Linked DNA regions of Homo sapiens: region 2 is linked to region 1. Evidence: fine-mapped expression QTL. Tissue or cell type: prefrontal cortex. Region 1 holds a variant in brackets; the other region holds the start of a gene. All regions are shown on one strand. Distances are between the middles of the regions.

Region 1 (10,921 bases):
GTTCTAGTGTTCAGTTATTACTAGTATTATGGATACTTATGAATGCCTTCTCTATCCCAAGCCTTTTACATATGTTGTCCTGTTGAATCTTCATGACAATCCAGTCAAGTAGGAATTATCACTATTACACAGTTGAAGAAAATGACGCACAAAAACTAAAGCCCTACCCAACGTCACAGAACCAGTAGAGCAGCAGAGCCAACCTTTGGCTCCAACCTGTGCTTTTTTTCCAGTTGGTTCTGGTGGTCTAGGCAAGTGTTGCTGCACAGGAGCAGCGTGGCACACTGACACAGGCCAGCCAGGCAGAGAAGTCAGAACAGCCGCGCCGGCCCACCGAAGTGTCATTGTAAGCATAGTTGTGCAGGCTGGGGACCTCCAGGGATGGCCAGGTCCACATGTCTGCTCTCGTGAGCATTGGCCGCCAAGGGCAGAGGACTGGCTCAGCATCCTCTTGCTCTTTGGACTTCCTGTTTCTTCTCCATGCCTGAAATAAAAGACGGAAACCAAATCTCTTTCCTAAAAATGGCATGGACAAGTGAAGACAAAAAAGCCAAAAGGTAGCACAGCCTAGTGGGAACAGTGTACTGTCTGACTGGAGTCCACACGCAGCCTCATCATTGCAGCCCTGGGCCCTCTCACTGCTCTGGACCTCTGTTCCCTCATCTGTGAGATGGGCAAAAAATGGCCACCCCACAGGTGGGGCTAAAGTTTGAGTGAGCTGGCCCATGAGGTGCATGCAACAAAGAGCCAGACACATGGGGTGCTTGAAAAATTCTGTTTCCCCTTCCTTTACCCTTGAGAGTGGCAGGTTGTACAAAGAGGCAGAAGAGCCTCTCCCTGCACAGGATGGAAGAGATTGGGCATAGCTGCCCGTGTGCCATGAGCAGGGAAGGACTGTGGCATGCATGCCATCATGGCAGGGTCAGGGCATGCAGGATGGCAGCTGGAGCTCAGACCATTTTCATATGCCTTTCATATACAATTCAGTTTCACACAGATTTATCCACCCAGATGAGTGGTTTCCCCTTTAAAATCATCGCCTTGAAAGCTTGAAACTGATTCCAGTGATGGTACCATTAGCCCTGACTTTCCTGAGACTTGCTTTGGGGGTTCTCCTTCAGAGCCTGTGATATTTTCTTTGGAATACTAAGCAGAGCTGTCTTTGTCCTTTACAGACAAAAATAATTCTGAACTAAGAAAATGACTCAAACACCTTAAAGTGCCCTGCAAGGTCCTTGCCTTCCTTTCCAGCTTCTTTCATGTTCCAGAATTCACCTTATGACTTGAAATAAGTGCTCACCAAATCCAGCAAATGTGGGACCTAGGCCCTCGAGGTGCACATTGTATAGTCGGTGGTTAGAGGAAGACAGCCGCAGGGATTCCAAGCAGTCATTGCTGTCAGTCAGGTTGAGAGATGAGGAGGGCCTTGAGCCGGGAGTGGCAGTGAAGGTAGTGTTGAGAGCTGTGGTGTAGGAAATGGCCTGCACTGAAGTGTGAGATGAGGAAGGAACCTTGAGCTTTCTGACGTGGGTCATCAGGAGGAGGGAGGGTGCACAGAAGGTGGGCAGGCTGGGGCTGAGCAGGAGATGATGAATTTCATGTAGACAGGTGTGAGTTTGAGGCGCCTGTGGGACATTCATGAGAGGTGTCTATGGGCTCCAGGGCTCGGGCTAGAGAAACGCATGTGGGAGACATCTTACAGCTGATGTTTGAAGGATGGGCTTGCGTGAGGCTCTCTAGAAACATGATGAACAGCGAGAAAGGAGAAGGGGTCATGGACACCACCCTGGGGTACACTCCACTGGAGGGAGGCTGGGGCGGAGAAGCCAACAAAGGAATGTAAAGAGGGATTGGATCATATTCCCGTCCTACAGCCAAATAATGGCAGAAGTTTCTTAAAAATCTCTTAGGTTTTCACCGGTTTATATGAAATCCTTGTATTAGTGGAAATGAGTCGTTTCCCCAAATATTATACCATTGCCCCATTTCTTTGCTAGACAAAAAATGTGTACAGCTCTGTCTCTTCATTAAGAAAGAATACGTTTGTATTTAAGAAGAGTTTACCTTCTGTGTTGGGCTTTTTTTTTCTTTCTTTCTTTTTTAATGCACTCCACCACTCTTCATAAAGGAAATAGCTAGAATAACAATAGTGTGGGTTGTTTGTCTGAGGATTTTTGCCTTTCTCTGGCAGGCAATGGTGAGCTAAGCATGTTAACCTTTACAGCTGCGTGACTTAGCAGCCTGTAGGTGTGAGAGTTGGACCAGAGGAAGGCTAGCAGTGAGGATATTCGTAATCACCTGATGCTCTCATCCTGTGGAGGGATGATGAAAGAACATAGGCTTTGGGACTAGACAGAGTTGGCTATGAATTTATACCACTTACTATCTTTGTAAGCTGAGGCAAGAAATCACTGCCATCAGTGATCTCTTCAGAATCAATACCCCACAGAATTGTCTCAAGCGCTGGATGCAGTAGCACCTGTAAGAGCACCCAGCAGAGGGCAGGGCAGAGCAAATGGTGACTCCCTCCCACCAGAAGGATACTGCCATGTCTGTGCATTGTGGCATGCCCTGCACGTGTTTTAGCAACTGATATGTCAGAGTACGGCTCCTCTCCCCACATTGAGGTTGATGCAGCATGCTTCTGTTTCATTCCACTGTCCCGAGTCATTGTCTAAAGACACCAGCGGCCACTCCCAGTAACACTGGTAGCTCTAGCATGGTAGTATCAATGACTAAAGCAATCAGAATCAGCAGGACTTCCTAATTTTTATTGTGTTACTGCAAGAGGATCGGGCAGAAGGCTGTAATGTTCAGTACTTTTATGACAGGCTATTTAATGTCCAGTTAACTTCTTTCTTAATTGGGAATAATAGCTAAGTACCATATCTTATAGTCTGACTAACTCAAATCTTATTTAAAAGGCTTAACTTTGAAAATAAAGAGAAAGAAATACAACACTGTTGGTTTTAAATTGGAAAATATTGTAGCAAATCGTGGTCATAATTCATAATCACTGTTTCGGAATTTTTCCTCAGGGTAAAATAATGAATTAAGCCCAATAATAGCAATATAATTCATTGTTTCACCCAAAGGAACAGTTATTACATATTTCAAAATGGTTGCAGGGTATTATATGATTTGCACAATAAATTTCCCTATATAACTCATGATACAGGTATATTAATGCCTTTGAGTTTGCAGGTGTTTGTGGTCAGGCTGAGTGGAACCAAATTGTTTTCCAAAGTTACATCAAGAAAATTTCTCCCTTTCTAAACACACATTCACTTTACTTGCCTCAGGTAAAACCACCTGCATTTATTGATGTACTCCTTGGGATAATTTTTTTAAAACATGAATGTGGCTTCTGTTTCTTAAATCCACATGAAAGGCGTCTTCCAAGGCCCTGTCCCCTGAGGTAGGCCTGTAGAAACTCCCAGTGGCTGGCTGGCAGGGCTCGCCAGTTTTCAGCTCATGCATCTAGAACAAGGATTGGTGGAATCTGAATACCACATAGTGAGAGCTGGACAGACCCTGGGGAGGTTCCAGGTTTACAGGGGCACAGCAAATGCTGGCTTCCACCAGAAGGATACGGCAGAGTCCGTCTACTGTCACATTATGGGGATCATAGGGGATCGAGGTGAGGGTCACACAGCCAGAAGTGTGAAGGGGTTTGGTACAGAGAAAGCACGTCTGGAAGAGTCCAGAAAGGGCTGGGCAGGGGACTCCTGAGCTATGAGGGCCAGAGGGCTTTCTGGGATGGTCCCCCTGTGCTCCTCAGCTTTTCTTGGCTCTTTGTGACACAAATACTTCTCTTGGCGTCATTTTATACTGAAAGGCCTTTGTAGGAGTGATTTTCTTTTGAAAATTATAGTAAAGAGGATTAGATTAGAAAAGGATTTCTATAACAATATATTCACAATGTGGATTTGTATCCTTTAAACCAGATTAGAAACCTTTTAGCAGGGCTTGATTGGAAAGTCTAACTGACTTCTAAATGGGATAAAGCAGTTGAATAATGATATTGTCTAATGCGCATGTGACACATACCATGTGCCAAGTACTGCTCTGAGCCCTTCAGCATATGTTCATTTATGCAACCCATATGGAGAGAGTATTGCTGGCCCCGTTTTACAGAGAGCTTAAGTCACCAGCCCTAGGTCACATAGGTCCCAAGTCCTAGGCTGTTCAACATGATGCTGTGCTGCCATGGTTGGAGGGTGGGGGAGAGTGCTGGTCTAGCTGAAGGAAAGCATTGTGTTTTGGTAGGAGACCGTAACAGCGTAGAGCAGATGGGCCAATGCAGGGAGCCCAGAGCAGCGGCTGGCAACCACCATGCATGGAGGGCCCAACCTGCCCACCGTACCCACCATCTAGGCCTCTCACCTTCCTTTGCAATTCCATAGGAAAATAAGAATTTCCTTGATTGTGTTCAGGTTTGTCTTCACAAAGCATCTAGATACCCATCTGTCGTGCTGACCTTGGAGACCAGGTCTTTCATTCAGCACCGCACCTTGCAAAGTGTGGCCACAAAGAGACAGATACTAGCTAGTGAGGCTCAGCGAGCTCTGGAAGAAGATGCTATGGGTGCATTTCCCAGTGCCTGGGAGAGTGAAATGGCTGAGAGCCACAGCAGGCCTCTAGGACTTTGAGACTAGAGGGTAGAAGGGGTCCCACAGCATCTGACCGCTCATTTTGCATATCCAGAAACTGACACCCAAGAGATTAAATCATGATAGACAGCCTTCACCGAGAGCTTACTATATGCCATGCACTTTGGTAGACAACTCACATGTATTCACTCATGTATTCCTTCTAACAACCCCACTACTTAAGTACTGTTACTATCCCCATTTTAGTGACAAAGACAGAGACGCCCAGAGATTGTGACCTCCAAAACAGCTTACTGCTTAGAAGGTGAGGGGCTGGAAGTCCAGCCGTGACTTTGCATCCTCAGGGTCAGGCAGAAAAGGATAAGAATCACCACATCTGTCCCCAAAGAAACTGACAGGCCCACCAGAAGCCAGTGACTGGCCCAGCATTGCCCCAGGGTTCCTATAAGGCCCCCAGAACTGGCTCCCATATCCACGTGGTACATCCACCACTATGCCTGCCACCTGGCAACAGACGAAGGGAGGCACACAGGTTTGCCATTTAGACAGCGTTGGAAGCCATACTGAAACCTGGTACAAGTCAGTGTTGTCAGCAGCCTTGCCATGATCTAATTGTCCTGGGCCCTGCCAGCCTCCTTAAGTAATAGTGACCTTGTAGTTGTCTGGGAAATAGGCCTTTTGTTTTTTAAACACAGAGGCGGCTCTCCATTAAAACTCCTGGCCGTTGGCAAACCTCTCTCCTCAGCCCTTAGCACCTTTGATCCTTGAGGCACCTGCTTCTCTTCCTCTAGGGACTAGGTATTTTTCAGGTGGGGTGGAAGGAAATTAGAGCCAGCATCTGATCCCACTCCTGAGTGCAGTGGAGGGCGGACATGGAGCTATCAGAAGTTAACAATTACGAAGAGGCCTAAGAGGAGGTGCCGCACCTAAGTGCCTTATACCACAGGCCCTCAAATTGGGGAGGAAACAAGAAAAGCTTTGTTCCCAAGGAACAGTCCAGGAATGAATCACCCCAAACCACTAGTTAATTTTGTTTAGGAACAGTTTCAAAGCATAAAAGGGACTGTGGATTTAAAAGGTCAGGGCCAGGGCCATATTTTGTCATTAGAAAAATTCAAGAAAATGCCGCCACCCAGGGAAAGCTGAGTAGTACCTGAATTAGCCAAAGTGAATTGGCGCCTGCATGTTTTAGTAATTACATGTTTTCCTTAAATACTGTCCTCTTAAGTAACTGTTGAAGTTAACAGAGCGGATACTTTCAAACTCAAAAGTGAAAGTTTTACTCTCTTAAATAGCCTTTGTCTTGCCTAATTAAAGGGGCCATAAGCAATTCTGTGTCAGCAGCCAGCACGGCCCCCTGCTGTGGATGAGTTGGTCCTGCAGGGAGCTTTCCTGGCACTTCCGCCCTTCCCAGAGCTTTGCCCCTTCCCCGTTTTCTGGCCCGGTGGGTCTGGAGTGCAGCAGATGCCTCCTTGTGTTTTGAGTAGCCGGGGCCGAGAACTGGTGTTCTGTCATGTGTGAGGCCCTGGGCTGGGCTCAGTGTCCAAAGGAGGACAGCTGCCTTCCACAGAGAGAAGACAAGCCCCCTGAACAAGTGTGAGAAATGTCCTTGAAGAGCCAAGTACAGGGGA[A/G]CTTGGTAACAAGAGTGAGAAAGTAAGAGAAGGTGATTCAGTCTGCCCTGAGGTATCAGATCGCTAGGAAGATGCCTGGGGTTTTGAGGGACCACGTGGAGTTCTGCAGCCAGGCAGGAAACTAGCCTGTCAGAGCAGAGCTGAGATGGGAGATGTCACGTGGCCAGGGCATGGATAACAGTGTGCCCTAGACCTGATCTGTAGGGTCAGCGGGCAAGGCCACCATGAGGCATTCTGGCATGACCAGCACTTGAGATCACTTTGACCAAGGATTGGATAACAGGTTGGAGGCAAGTGAGAAACGGTGAGGGTGGAATGTGGACGGTAGGGGAAGGGCTGAATACAGCAAGTGCATGTGCGGGGGCGAAACTGGTGGACTTAGGAAGGGGCGTGTGTGTGAAGAGCGCCTGCATAGAGCACAGCTGGGGTACTTGGAGGGGAGGGGTCCTGGGTGGGAAGGAGGCTGCTGGGGAGACCCTGCAACTCATTTCCGCCCTAGGACAATGGCAACAAGGTCAGGCTGTTGAATGAAGTGCCAGCATAGCCCGTGGTGGTCAGCTGCCTCCCATAACCATTGTTTCCCTTGTATTTTTGGTTTACTAAGCAAGTGATAAGCCAGATCTTCCATCGATTCGGAGCCTCCAGAGGCTTGCTTGTATGTATCCCTCCCACTCCTGCTTACAGAATGCCTCAGAAAATATTTGTGGATTTGATGGCAGCTTTAATCTATAAGAAAGAAAGAACAACTGGAATGCCTTTGCAAAGTTATGTTCCACCCAGTTCCCGCCCTCAGGAAGCTCAGGGTGACACGGGAAGTTTGGGATGGGCACAGTTTATTACAAGGCAGAAAGGGACCGTTGGGCGCTACTATCCTAAGATATTTTCAGAAAATGGTAGGCCAAGGATAGGAATATGAGAAATAAGTTTGAGCTTAGGGGCCAGGGTAGGTGTCCTGGAGAAGTGGGGCCTGCGGGATGCATCGGGGAGGAAATGCAGGACGCCCCTGACTCCCTGCACATTGCGGGAGTTGAGTGGACACACGAGGACAGGGCTGTGGGGGCCTGCAGTGAGGGCAAGGAGCTGTTCCTGTCCATTCTCTGTGCTGAGTTTCAGGAGCTTCCATCCTTTTCTTTGGCCCATATCAAACTGGCAAGAATGGCTGGGAGAGCAACTGTCTGTGCCAAGCTCACTCAGCTCCAAGAAGCTCCCATGTATCCCTGGTGTCAGGGCACCCGTCCTCACCCAGCCTGAGCACTGGGAAACACGCTCCTCTGGCTCTGGGCCTCTGTCCCTGTTGAGCAGTGGAGTGGCCAGGCTCTGAAGTCAGAGGGGCCCAGAGGCAGCTCGGCCAAGCTGCCCACCTCCCCTTCCTCTCCAGACCCTCCCCACACCAGATCCTTCTCCATATTAAAAAATATGTATAGTCCTTCAGTATAGTTCATGAGAGAAAACAACAACAAAAGAATTTTCTTAATAATGGTACTAGAGTCAGGAAGCAGGCCGTGGGATCCCAGGGGAGAGCGGGTAGGTAGATACAGCTACAGCCATAGCAGTCAGCTTGTACCCCTGGAGTGCAGTGGTTGAGATGGAGAAGTCAATTACCAGGCAGCACAGCTGTTTTTTAAAACTTTCTCCTGAAAGCAGGGACGTTGTTCACACTAATGCTAACGGTCGTCCAGCACCGGCTGCCACGTTGCCGCAGCTGGAAATGGGGGCTTCGGCAGTGATTCCTGGAGCGTAGGTCCGCTTTCTTGCTAGACTCTTGCCTAAGTTCAGTATGATGTCATCCTGAGTGTGTCTGTTTCCTCACAGTTTGAACAGGAAAATCAGCGACTAATTGGTGAAATGAACAGCTTGTTTGATGAAGTGAGGTATGTTTGTAGCTCCTCTGTGAGCTGATAGCCTGCTTTACAACTTTTCCAGGAACTAGGAACTTTATTTACCTTGGTGCCCAGGCATCCCCATGGGGCCCTTGGGCTGGTGCAGCCCCCCTCAGCCATTTTGACTGGGCTGGGGTGGGCATGTGGCCTGAATCCACAACTCCCTCAGCTTGTGGGCCTGTGGGTTACCTCCTGCCTGCTGCCACTGCTGCGGGGGGCCCAGGTGCTTCCCACCCCGAGAGATACAGGAGTGACTACAGATTACCTGCGTATAATTTCCACCACCATTCGGGCTGTTTCCACGCAGCGACTCTGAAATGAAATGGGGCCCTTATGAAGGGCAGCTAACCAAGGGAAGCCCTCTTCTGCAAATGGTTCCACTGGGGTCTGCCTGCTCCTGTACCCACCAGGGAGTCAGGAATGCAGAAGGCAAGGCCTTGGTCACTCACACATGCACCCGTTAGCCTCTAGTTTCTGTGGGAAGGCTTGGAGCATGCTGAAAGTAAGGCCCAGGACTTTGCAGAGCCTGTTGTATTGTGGACATGTCCCCCAAATAAAATCAATCCTGATGCTGCACTCACACAGCCTGAGGACTTTCTCAGTGTAGGTGTCAGCCTCCAAGGGGCTCTTCGCCTTCTGCCCTCAGAGATGGACCTCCTAGTCCTCCTCTGACAGCCTAGCTTTCACTGTCTGCCCCACTACCGCCCCCACCCCGCTACTCCCCCATGCCCAGATACTCACTGGCTTTTCTTCCCACATCTCCTCCCCTGCCCCCTGCCACTGTGATACTGTTGGGATTCATCACTGCTTCCACCTGGCCAGGAGCTCAGCTCCCACCACTTTTTGCCTCCTGTCACTTCCTGTCGCTGCTTTGTGCTGGAACAGCAGTTGACTTCAGCTTGGGCCAGCTTCTGTTTCTAAATAGATGTGCCCCCACCCGCCCCCCAGGGTAGCCCATGCTGCCCCTGACACCAGGAAGATGGCTAGCCCAAGTGTTTCAGATCCGACAGAACACTCCGTTGCCAAACCAAGACATGGCATTTTCTAAATGAATCAGAGGAGCTTTTTTCTTGGAACAGGGAGTTGGTTTGAAGGTAAATACACTTTTTTCTTTAACCTGCTGAGCATTAACAAAGCTGGATCATCAGCATATTCTGACCTTCTGAATCCCCACCATGTGTTACCATGGTGATGAGGCTAGGCAGAGAACTTACTGGAGACTGCTTTCTGTAACTGGGGCACAACCAGGCCCTCCCCATTCCCCGAGCAGTGACACAGAATGCAAAGGGCACTGCACACACCCACCTCTTGGGACTGAGGGTCAGTTGGCATGGTAGAGTGGACTTCCAAAAAGACCAGTGTGCTAGGCTATGCCAGAAGACAGGGAAGGTGACCCAGTAAGGAGAGTTCGCCTTCCTCTCCCATCTCCTCTTCCCCCAGCCGACACAGTGTGCCCCCTGTCTCTCCCACCTTCACGTAGAAGATAGGATTTCTTTAGAAGTGTGTAACAGTCCTGTTAGATTACCAAGTGCTAATAGTTAATATGTAATCTGTTCTTTTTATGAAGGCAAATCGAAGGGAGAGTGGTTGAGATTTCCAGACTCCAAGAGATATTCACGGAAAAGGTTTTGCAACAGGTAAAAAAACAAAAACAAAGGAGCTGTATGTTTTCACTCAAAGGGGAATGTACTTGAGAGCACGAGACATTTTTCCCAAAGGCTGCTGCTCTACACAGCCAGGAGCAGAGCCATGTGTTGCTAGCAGGTGTGTGTGCGCAGAGCTCCTCAGGGAAAAGCTCTCACTACCCAGAGCTGCCTCTGCACACGTGTGATGGAGGAGGAGCTCCCCACAGGGGACCCACTGACCACCCCATGTGGTAGCACATGCGGTGGCACGTGGGAGGAGAGTCCAGGCCTGGCAGTCAGGGTTCTGGATGTGCTGGGTAAGCTAGGTAGCCCCCACAAGCTACAGTTTCCCATCTATAGGAGGGAGGGACTCCTGCAGGGTTATTCTCTGTTTGAGAGATAACTGCAGAAGCATCCAGCACGATGCTGACGGGCAGTTGCTTTTCAGTCAGTAGGTTACAGGAGCTCAGACCCAGGCCTCTCACAACGCGCGGTCCATGCCACCTCAGGGATGGTGTCTGCGTGGGAAATAGGATTGTTCTTTTCAAGTGAATTTTCTGAAATTCTTCCAGCCAATAACTGGCAAAACTTTTCAAGACCTGATAAATTTGCCCTTTTATTTTTAGCATCCAAAGACTATGGGAACGTTTGAAAGACAAAATTTTCTCCAGTATTTTAAACTGGACTACTTGACTTAAGATACTTCACTCACAAAATGACTTTCCATAAACCACACAGCCAGAGTGAAATCATTGTAAATGAGGTACATTAAGTCTAACAGTGGTTTGCAAGTTCGGGTTCATAGGAGTCGCCCTTTTTAATAACACTACCCTGCTTCAAACCTCCCAGCGGCTCCAGGGGGCCTGGGAGGGGCGTGCAGAGCATAGGCAGAGCCTTGCCTTGGCTCACCGGGAGTTTCTTTTTCTTTTCTTTTTTTTTCTTTTTCTTTTTTTTTTTTTTGGAGACAGAGTCTTGCTGTGTCGCCCAGGCTGGAGTGCAATGTTGCTATCTTGGCTCACTGCAACCTCATCCTCCCAGGTTCAAGCGATTCTCCTGCCTCAGTCAGCCTCTTGAGTAGCTGGGATTACAGGCATGCCACCACGCCTGGCTAATTTTGGTATTTTTAGTAAAGACGGGGTTTCACCATCTTGGCCAGGCTGGTCCCGAACTCC
Region 2 (10,921 bases), 40 kb after region 1:
AGTGCCGCACTGCGCCCTGCTCTGTGGGGACCTAAAACGCCGGGGCTGGGAAAGCAAAGGGCAAGTGGGGCCTGAGAAACCCAGACACACTCAGACATCACACAGCATTTAGCCATCAGGACAGAGGACACCATGACCTTGAAATCAAGGCCACTCCTGCCTCAACCAGGGACAGCAGCCAAACCCAGGGTGCAAATGGGGCAGGACAGGTGAGTGGCAGCAGATAAGGCACGCGCTAATCCCACTGGCCAGCGCAGAAGACAGGTATTGACCTCGGATCAGTATGTCTTGGTCCTGGCCAAGAACCTCAAAAACGTACGATGGGCCGAGCCAGGAGCCACCAAAAGAGCCTCTCGGCACACACGACATCCTTACATACCAGCAGGGACAGACACAGACTGCTCTGTGCCTCGACTTCCCCATCTGTAACACTGGTAATACAAATAGTACCTACTATTAGTAGGGAGCAGGCAGAGGGCTGCTGGGAGGATTTGCTGAGCTGACACAAGTAATTGCCCCACAGCAACACTCATGGGACCCGCTGGACCAGGCAGGCCCTGACAGGCAGTGTGTGGCAACGGGAAGAAGGAGGGACTGAAAGTCAGATTACGCCCTGGCTTCCCCAGTCACTCTGTGGTTTTGGCTTCATCTGTTAACCAGGGATGGCTCCCAGTCCCACCTTCTGTGATCCACAAGGTTGTCACAGAGATCCAATATGATGCCATACCCACAGGGGCTCTGGAAACTGCAGCGGGTGGGGGTGGGAGTCCCTGTGCCCCCAGCACAAGCAAACTGCTCACACTGCCAAGTGGAGGGTGACCAGAGAGCCAGACAGGGCCACTCTGCAAGGCCTGGGGCCCACTGATGTCTCTCAATTCACCTCCTTGAATCTGGATGAGGCTACCGCTTTACTCTCTCTCTCTCATGTTTCCCAAAGAATGAGTTTCCTGATCAATATCCCAACTTGTTCTTCAACCAACGTGGCCTCTGAAGGCAGCCAGGCTGGCAAGAAGGCTCCTCCCACCGAGACAGGCTGGAACCCTCCCGCTCTCAGCAGCACCCCTTCATCCCATTGGGATGGGGGGAAGGATGGAGGATACACACAGGCCCAAAGCCAGACCCCCTGCAGATCAGATCCTGGCTCTGCTGTGTAGAGCTGTGACCACTCTGTGCCTCAACCTTTCCATCTGCAAAATGGGTTATACCGATAGTACTGGTGTGCCAGGAGGGTTGCTCAGATGAGCTCACTAGGTAAAGGGCTGGGACCCCTTTCTGGCATGTGATCAGTGCTGTGCGTTATCTTTTTGTTATTGCCTGCTTCCTTCCTGGAACTGTTAAGTAAATATTGTAATGTTTGGTAAGTGATTTTTCATATGTTTATAATCTTTGCCTAAAAGACAGTTTGTGGGTGGGTTTCCCCTGTTATAAAAATAAGTAATATGTGATCATTTTGGAAGAGGAAAAGAAAAAAGAAATGTACAAAAAGCACAAGGACAACATCTTGGCAGGCAGTCACAAGCTACTGGGTGTGCACAGCTGGGATGAGCCCAGACAAACGGCGTCAAACCCTGGCCCTCCCTGCAGGGCATCTATGCAGCTCAGCAGACCCCTTCTGGGGGCAAAAGCAGCATCTCACCCAGCACAGGACCACTCACCTTAAACCTCTCGGTGACACCCTCCGTGATGCTGACGGTGAACTCAGCAATTTGGGGAGGACGTGCTTTCCCTTTCTTGCGGTCAGGTTCATACTCGGTCTTAGTTTTCACGACCACCTTATCCAGGAAACAGAGAAACAAAAGTCAGATGCATTCAGACATATCTGCCCAAAGAGGGTGGGTCTGGGAACTCCCATATTCAAAGTCACCATTTGCCAGGAAGAAATTCACAAGAACGAGAACAGCCACTACTTTTTGGAAATCTCCTCTGTGGCAGGACTTTCAGAGAAATGACCCATTCATAATCCTGATAGCAGTCCCAGGAGGGAAATATTATAACCGAGGGGCACAGAAGTTAAGCTCATTGGCCAAGGTCATGCGGTTTATAGGCGGCAGGGCGGGGATGCAGCCTGGCAGCTGACTCCTAACCCAGTGCTCCTTCCACCCACCAGAGCCAAAGCCTGGCTTGGCCCAGGAAGCTGGGAGGCTGCACCTGCCTTTTCACTGGCCTTGCTGTGCCACCATGGGCACAAGAAGAGGAGGTCTGAGGGTACTGTCCACAGCCCTCCAGGACTGGCTGGAGAAGCTGGCCACCAGCTTGTCTGGAAACAGATCCAGGATCAACCTCTTTGTCTCCACCCCCACATCCTCCTCTCCCCCTGCCCCTGCCACAGCCCCCAAAGGGTCTCCCTGCTCTCATTCCCCTCCACCCCCTACTGTGAAGCAGAACGATGTTTGTCCAACCTGGAAACCAGCCCTTGCATCTGCCCTACACCCCAGCAGCTTCAGATGGACCCAAGAAGCCTCCCAGCCCTGGACACTCACAGCCCTGGCCTCAGCGGCGCTGCCTTCATCACTCACCACACCCGTTGCCAGGGACTGTTTACTTCTCTGTCCCACTGGACTGGGAGGTGTTCAAGAGCAGGGTCAAGGTGTTATAGGTCTCTAATCCCCAAACCCCGCTCCCCAAGCCAGGTTCCAGGAGAGGCTGTTGCACTAGAGACAGCCAGCCACCTCCAAGCTCTTTCTCCCCCGAGGGACGAGGCCCCTTCATTGGGCAGTCCGTCACCTGCTCTCCACGATGGTGGGGACCAGGACAGAACAAAGAGACCCCAGCAACTGGGGATGGTCAGCCCCAGGCGGGCAGCCAGAGGGCCTCTCATCCGGTGCTACGACCCCCAAAGCCAGCCTTGGGGAGAAAGAACAGCGGAGCCCATTCCAGGGTCACTGAAAAATGATCCCAAGAGCCATAAACCTTGTAACCACACTCTTGGCCTCTGACCCCAACTCCTTTTCCACCCAGTGCTCCTGCGGTGGAGAGGGAGGGGTGCCTGGCATGGGTTGGCCTGGGCACCCACCCCTGTGAGGCACTCATTGCTTGAGGCAGTGGTTGGGTGTCACCCTGCCATCCTCAAACCCCGACTGGACCCAACTAGCCATGTGACCTTGAGCACGCAGGCCTAGACTGGCCAATGAATGGGAAATAAGGCTACTGCTGAGGATGAGGAAACCCATGGAAACCTCTCCCGTATGTGGGGGCCCCATCAATATTCTGTCGACCTGGATTCTATCCCCACCTGCCACTAACAGGCTAGGTGACCTTGGGCAATTCTCAAACTCTCCGTGCCTGCATTTCCACATCTGCAAAATGGGGGTAACATGGTAGTGACCTCATGGCATTATCAACACATTAAAAGAATTTAAACCTGTAAAACTGGCAGAATAGTTCCTGGTGCAGAATAAGTGTCTGGCAAATGTCAGGGGAGACCAGCCCTGACTCTGCTGCCAGCACTGTGACTGCTGTCACCGCTGCACCCCAGCACCTCAGCACTCCATACACGTTCTCAGAACAGATTCTCATTTATAACCCAACTGTGTCACCACCCCTCAGAAGCCATGTCACCTGAAACAGGTGACATCGCCTCCCTGAACTCTGACCGTTAGCAACACGTTGCTGTTGTTCAGGTTAAGAGAGGTCTTACGTGAGAGACATCTGGCTCCAAGCACAGTGGAGTAAGAGGCACTGCCAGAAACTTCTGCATCCTGGAGGACTGTAACCTTCAGCCCAGTGACCTTGGGTATGTCCCATAAATGCTCTGAGGCTCAGTTCCCTCATTGTGACCTTAGAAGCCTTCTGGAAAATGATCCCAAGAGCCATAACCCTTGTACCCACACTCAGTCCCGGCGGGAAGTCCGGGATGGAAGGTCTGGCTGGACCCGAGAAGAGCATCCCTGCTGGCTGCCCCGCTTCGGACGCTTGCAGAGAGAGCAGACTCATCACCTTTCCGAGCTGCCTAGGCTACTCCTGGTCGACCTAATTAGTTGGTGAGGATTTCATACCTGCCTGAAACCCTCCTCCCTGTATAAACCAACTGTGCCAAATGGTTCTGGAATGGAACAGACTGAGGACAAGAGAGGAGGCTCAGGCCAAGTGAGGGGAATCACCTGATAGAGGTGCTGCCTCAGGACACGGAGTTCCTGGCACAGGCGCCACTGCTCCTCAGCCGAGCAGCTGGGGGCCCAGGCAGGAGGGGGTGTGGGGGCCTCGGGGCCAGGCCCCGCTAACTGGACGAGTCTGATGCCTAGACAGGGAGGGGTGGAGTGGAAGCTGAGGCCTCAGGCAGCCCTGCCCCTCCTGCAAAGCCTAGCCTGGACCATCAGTGGCCCAGAGTGGCACCACCGTGGCCTGGGGGGCACAGGTGTGGCCGGCTGATCCCCCTTTCTTGAACTGAAACCCCCGCTGCCAGCCTCTTCCCGGCTCCTGCCTCCCTCCCCAGACGACACACACAATAAAGCTGGGAGGACACCTTCACAGGGGTCAGGGCCCCCACCAGGACACCCCCACCCCACAACACCCACCCCGTCAGCAATCACCAACTTGCTGGAACGAAGACAGAGCCCTGGCTCAGAGCCCCTTCACCAGGGACTAAATGAGAAAATAAATAGAAAAGCACTTCCGGGAATTATTCGTGGCTGTGGTGGTTCGTAAGCGGCAGCAAGATGCTGAGAGTAGATGCTGTGTCTATGGTCTTAGATGTGAATTTTACAGTACAATTGCCTAGACATGCAAAGATCTATTTACATTTTTAAGTGTTAACTCTTGGAAATATTATTCTTAGCAAACAGAAACTACTTAATTGGATGCTACATTCAAAAAGAGGAGATTCTTTAAATTCAGCAGAAAACACTTTGGGGAAAGGTTGATGAATGGTTTTTCCCAGTGACACCAATACTGAGCGAGCCCGGGCACTTATTTGGAGATTTCACAAAAGGAACAAAGAGGAAGGAGACCCTGTGTGAGCGCGCACACCCTCCTGCACCTAGCGCCAGCCTGGCAGGGGCAGGCAGAAAGGGCGAGAACAATTCAGCCCTGGGGAGGGGCCATCTGACCAAGGAGAACGCTCCCCCGCCTCGGTGGGGCAAGTCGGGCTGAACTGCCACACCCGGGAAGGTACAGGGGCAGCCTCGCCCGCCCCTAGGCTCACCCCCGATCCAGAGCCCCTGGGGCCACGGGGCAAGGGAGGAGCAGGGCAGCTGCGGGGCCAGGGCCCTCTCGGATGAGGCTCCCAGGAAAAACGCGAAGGAATCTTGCCCCACCGCGTTCCACTGTCAGGACGAGAATATCATCTAAGGCAGGGCTCCCCTCCCCCGCCCAGCATCCCGCGATCCAGAATCCCGCGCGGGTACACTGTCCTCGCCGCGCTCCCTCCGGCCTCCCGAGCCCGCCCCCACTTCGCGTACCCAGCGCACGCGGCGCGTTTCTTTTGTTGCGCCCGCCGTGCGAGATTTGGGGGTGCACACCCGGCAACGTGGAGGGGCGTGGGGGGGCTTACCTTATCCGGGGGCGGGAACTGCAGCTGATTGACATCGAGGGGCGTCATCAGGGGAATGGTGTCGAAGCCATCCTCCAGCAGCGGCTGCTTGGTGCCCTTCTCTGCGAAATTGTTCCCCAACTTCACCATCGTTCCGGGAGCTCCGAGGCTGCAGCCTGCGGCGGGAGGGCCGGGGGGAGTCACCACAAGCAAGACCCGGGGCGGGGCGGGGGGGAAGTGGGCACCCACACCCACCGGCGTCCCGGCGTCCGCGAGCTCCCCGGCCCCGCTTCGTCTCGGGGAGGGCTCGTGGGGACGCGGTGGTCACGGCCCGATGCGGGGGTCGGGTGGTGCTGTGTATTTCTAGACCCTCATCTCGCAGGACCCAAGCGCCGGGCGCAAGGGCGCACCGCGGCCAGGGAAGGGGGCGCCGCCCCTGCCCAGCACCTCCAGACCCGGTCCCCGGTCCTGGGGCCGCCGCACCCGGGCGACCCGCTGTTCACAGCCCCGTCCCGCGTACTCCGGGAGATGGGCATCCCCCGGGCACTGCTCCTGGGCGGGCAAGGTCTGGCCTCGGCAAGCCCAGGCGCGGCCGGCCGCACTCACCCACGCCCGGCTCCGGCAGGTCAGCTGAGCGCTCCGAGCTCCGCGTCTCCTGCTCCTGCTCGCAGCAATGGCGGAGGCGGCGCCGCGCGCGGACCCGGGAAGGGGAGCGAACGATTGGGCTCCACGGCCGCTCCCTCCTCCTCGCGCCGCCGCCTCCCTTCCTGCCTCTCCCGGGGGCTGGGTGCGCGCGGGTGGGTGCGCGCGTGTGGCCGCGCCTCCACCTTGACGCAGCGCCCGCCCGGCCGCACAAAGGAGTGCGGGGCTGGGCGGGAGCCTCCCCTGGGACCACGCGCCCGCCCTGAGCCGGGGGAGGGAACAGGGGAGCGGGAGAGGACGCGCCCCCAGGGGGTCTCGGAGCGGCGGAGGGCGCCCGGAGCGGGAGGGCTGCGGGCTGCGCCACCCCGGGCGGCGGCCTGGGCGCGAGGCGCTTAGAAAGGAGAAAGGGGAGGCGGGGACCGTAGGGACAGAGCGACCCCCAGGGGTGCGGGGAGGTGCAGAGAGGGTCCCCGCCCGCAGCGCGCCGCGCTCACCTGGGGGTCCTGAGGACGTTCAAGGGTTTGGGGGGATGGGTCCAGGAGGCGCTGGGTGGTGGCGGAGACCAGAGCAGGGTGCTCCTTAGTGCTGGGTTGGGGAGGGGGCGACCAAAAGAGGGCGCGTCCGCGTATAAAGGGGGCGCGGCCCGTAAAGGAGGCGCGGCCCGTAAAGGAGGAGGAGGTTTTCGGTGGTGCGGGAGGCGGAGTAGCGCTCTCCCAGGGCTGGGGTGTGGGCGCCCAGGGTGAGGCTGCCCCAGGCAGCGGGAGGGAAGTCGTTCTAGGCAAAGAGCGCTCAGTGCGCCGCTTGGAGGGAGGCGGAAAGGTTCCTCCGCTCTGGTTGGCAGAGAAGGTGGAGGTCCCACTGCAGCCGCCGCCCGAGCATCCTGGGCACAGAGGAGGGGCCGCTGGGACGATGCCCGGACGCGGAGAGAAGGGGGGTGGTTCTAGCCCGACCTGCGCCCCCAAACCCCGAGCTCAGCCGCTGTCGCGGCTTCCCAGAGAGGGTCCTGTTTGCAGACCTCCAACCCGTCCTGCCTGCAGGACTCACGGATGAAAGACTATGGGGTGTGGGGGCGAGGCCGAAATGGGAGTGGAGCCCGCGCGGGAGGAGGCCGGCTGCGGGGATCGGTGCCTCCTGGGCACCTGGGCCAGGAGCTGGGCCCTGTCAGGCGCTGGACGAGGAGGAGGCATCACCCAAATTCGATACTTTTTCACACCCTTTCCGGGGACTTCCCCGCGGCACTACGGAGGGTCCGGGGCGTTTTCCATCAGCCGTCTGAGAATCCTGGGAATAAGCCCAGAGCACAGGAGCAGCCACCGCCTTGAGCCCCAGGCACAGCCTGGGAACTTGCCGCGGGTGCCCTGATTTCAAAATCCCCAGGAGGGCTAGCCGTCTTTGACAGGTGACCTAGTGGGTATCTCGTAACTCGCCCCAACTCTCCAGCCAGGGTCTAAGTGTGCCTTTGACCACAGGCCAGCCTGGTCTGAACCCAGGCTCCTGGCAGAGGCACCCCGCCCCCAACCCAGGGAAAGCGGGTGTCAGACTCTGGCCCCTGCCACGGGCCTCGGGGACCCACAGAACCCACCTTTTTGGCACTTTGATGCCTCCCTGAAGCAGGTGAAGAAGAGAAGATTTCTCTTGCTCCACTTCAGAAATCTGCCCAGGCATCTGCCATGAGAGTGACCCACTGGTCAGGAGAAACCCTTTGGGCTTAAGCAAGGAAATGGCTTTCCCGCACCCCCCCCCGCCCCGCCCCCCGTCTCAGGCTCAAGCATTTAACAGAACCCAACACACACGCGCGCGCGCAAACACACACACACACACACACACACACACACACACACTTGGTCAGAATTCCACACCAGGAGGAACAAAGTGGAGGCCCTGCCCCTCCCTTAGAGACTCTGTCAACTGAGGAGGACAGAAAGGCAAGAAGGACCTAGGTTGTCCCAGAGATGGACGGTGAACAATCATGTTTCTCTGCTAGCTGGCCTTTTGTGCTGTCTTGGGTCTTCACTGGTGCTGGTCATTGGGACTGTTTCATCCTGTGGTTTTCTTCCTCTGCTGATTGTATCTGGGCCCTGTGAAGGGCATGGACAATGCAAAATGCATGAGACACAGCGCCACCCGCAGGGAGCTACGGACAAGGGCAAGTCTTTGCTGGGAGCAGTGGCCCTGTGGGAGAGTGGCCTCTGCCTCTTGCCAGGAGGGAGGACATCCAGAGACTGTGGGTAAAGACTGTGGATAAAGCTTCCTACAGGTGGGCCTGAGAGAGGTGCGTGCAGAGGGGAAGGCATTCCAGGTAGGAGAACAGAATGTGTTAAGACAGTATATGAGCTTCCTGCCACTGTTGGAACAAATTTGGCTTAAAACAATAGAAACATGTTCTCTCCTGGCTTTGGAGGCCAGAAGTCTAAAGTCTAGGTCCCAGCAGGGCCTCACTCCCTCTACAAGCCACAGAGAAGAACCTGTTCTTTCCCCCTCCAGCTTCCAGTGGCTCCAGACATTCTTTGACTGTGGCTGCATCACTCCAATCTCTGCCTTCATGTCACTCCAGTCATATTGCCTCCTCCTCTTCTCTGTGTCTCTTATAAGGACACTCATCATAGGATTTAGGGCCTGCTGGGATAATCCAGGATAAGGTCTCCCTCTCAAAATCCTTAACTTAATCCTATCTTTGCCATATAAGATAATGTTCACTCTTTTACTATGTAAGGTAAATCAGGTTCCCGGGGTTAGCATGTGGACATATCTTTTAAGGGTCGCCATTCAGCTCACTACAGGCATTAAGCTTGCAAGGGTGTGGTGATTTGGAGAACCCAAGTCATTCACAGAGGGTGGCAGAAATTAGGTTGAAGAAGCCACAGCCACCAAAATGGGGATGGCTGAGGCTGCAATGGTGGTTGCAGGTCAAACAGATGTCAGGTATTTTCACAACATACAAAAAGGGAAAATCAATGGGATGCGATCTCCCCCTGGACCAGTTTCATCCCAGCACCAACAATTTAAAATCCAAGTGCCACAGAAGATTGTTGACACATACTCAGTTTTTCTAAATGACTCTTTTTTTTTTTTTTTTTTTGGGACGGAGTCTTGCTCCGTCGCCAGGCTGGAGTGCAGTGCCGTGATCTCAGCTTACTGCAACCTCCGCCTCCCTGGTGCAAGTGATTCTCCTGCCTCAGCTTCCTGAGTAGCTGGGATTACAGGCACGTGCCACCACTCCCAGCTAATTTTTGTATTTTTAGTAGAGACGGAGTTTCACCATATTGGTAAGGATGGTCCTGATCTCCTGACCTCGTGATCCACCTGCTTCAGCCTCCCAAAGTGTTGGAATTACAGGAGTGAGCCACTGCACCTGGCCCTAAATGACTCTTTTAGGAATACTTCCAGGGTTGCTGATCTCAGGCACAGACCCATCACTGCCTGTACGATTGTAACTCCTACCCTGCTCCCTCTCCTCAGGGCAGCCAGGCGCTGCTCTCTAATGACCCTGGTACTTCCAGGTCCAAGCGTTTTAGCAACTTCCCTTGTCCCACTGGTTGAAGTCCAGACTGTCACAGCAAGAGACAATGTGACACAGTGGCTAAGCCGTGGCCCGATTTTGAATCCTGTCCCTCTCTTCCTAGCAGTGTGACTTCAGGCAAGCTGCTTAACCTTTCTATGCTTCAGTTTCCCCATCTATAAATGGAGATAATGAAACCTCCATCAGAGCAGTGTTGTGAGAATCAAATGAGCTATTCTTATTTTTTTAAGTGCCTGTTTTAGGTATTACTATTGCTTTGACCTCTAATTCTGTACTCCTGTGGTCTCTATTCTTAGCAGCCGGTGCTGGAGCCAGGGCGAGGTGATAGACACTTTTCCTGGTTATGTGACAAGTGTTCAGAGTGACTAAGGTGACTCTTCCCCTAGAGGCCTCATGAGCCTCTTTGCAGGTCACAGAAGTCAAATGATGAGTCCCCGGCCACAGGCTTCCCTGCAGAGCTGGGATGGGTTGCAGGATCTAGTCAGGCCTCCCACAGCCAGCCAGATCTCCAGGATGGATGAGGTCCTGCTGGGAGGGTGGCCACCCAGTGCTGTCAGCCTATGGAGGTTCAGTGGCAGGTGATCAGCAGAGGTTCTGCTCTGTTTTTCTGCAGCCTGGCCACGTCGATCCAGCGATGCTTCATCCAAATGTCTTGTTTTTAGATTGAGATGTAATTCACATGCCACAGATATCACCAGTTTAAAGTATACGCTTAACTGGTTTTAGTATATTTACAAGGTTGTACAATCATCACCACTAATTTCAGAACATTTTCATCACCCCGTAAAGAAACCTGCATCCCACAACAGTCACTCCCTGCACACATCCTCATCTCTGATGGTTTTAAGTTTCTTGGGTCCACTTCTCAATCCACGGGACCAGCCGGCACGCTGGGACCAGCCGGCACACTGGGATCAGCCGGCACACTGACACAGAATCGGGAGAGACATTAGGCTCTGGATCTTTCTGCAAATGGGACAATCCATTTGCAATGTGAAGAATCAGCCCACCTGGGTGAAGTCATCCCTGTTTCTCCTTAAACCCTGTCCTGTAGCCAAATTCTCCATTCCCCCAAGTGCCTGCCTCCAGGCCTTTGCAAATGCTGCTTCTCTTGCCTAGATTGCCTTCCCCACTCCTCATCGATTTTGCAAACTGCTCCTCATCCTCCAAAGCCCAGATCCAATGTTGCCTCCTCTTTGAAGCTTGGCCTTTCTTTATGCTCCTCTATCCCGGAGTCTGGGTATTTACATTTCTATATAGATCATGAGCAAATCAGGCAGAACCACTTAATC

Which allele goes with the higher level. Positions count from the first base shown, and alleles are read on the strand shown. Sizes are in standard deviations (SD) of each study's normalised expression.
With allele G in place of A in region 1, the expression in prefrontal cortex of the gene that starts at base 6,145 in region 2 is higher (small effect, 0.23 SD a copy in BrainSeq).

Evidence for each region. PIP is the estimated chance that this variant, and not a neighbour inherited with it, causes the effect.
Region 2: it holds the start of NSG1, and the variant in region 1 is fine-mapped to the expression of NSG1 in prefrontal cortex (BrainSeq, PIP 0.95).

Annotation. Positions count from the first base shown.
Region 1 is chr4:4,422,358-4,433,278 of GRCh38, reverse strand. STX18 (syntaxin 18) reads left to right here. Exons shown (of 11, transcript NM_016930.4): 8 at 8,057-8,115; 9 at 9,692-9,761. Among named protein-coding and RNA genes, the nearest start is that of NSG1, 41 kb to the right of the region's middle. RefSeq lists an enhancer at 5,716-6,259. The variant A/G (reference allele first, on the strand shown) is at 6,245.
Region 2 is chr4:4,382,326-4,393,246 of GRCh38, reverse strand. NSG1 (neuronal vesicle trafficking associated 1) reads right to left here and starts at 6,145. Exons shown (of 5, transcript NM_014392.5): 1 at 6,074-6,145; 2 at 5,489-5,643; 3 at 1,656-1,772. The coding sequence starts at 5,617. LOC112268462 (a long non-coding RNA gene) reads right to left here. Exons shown (of 3, transcript XR_007058004.1): 3 at 8,638-8,725.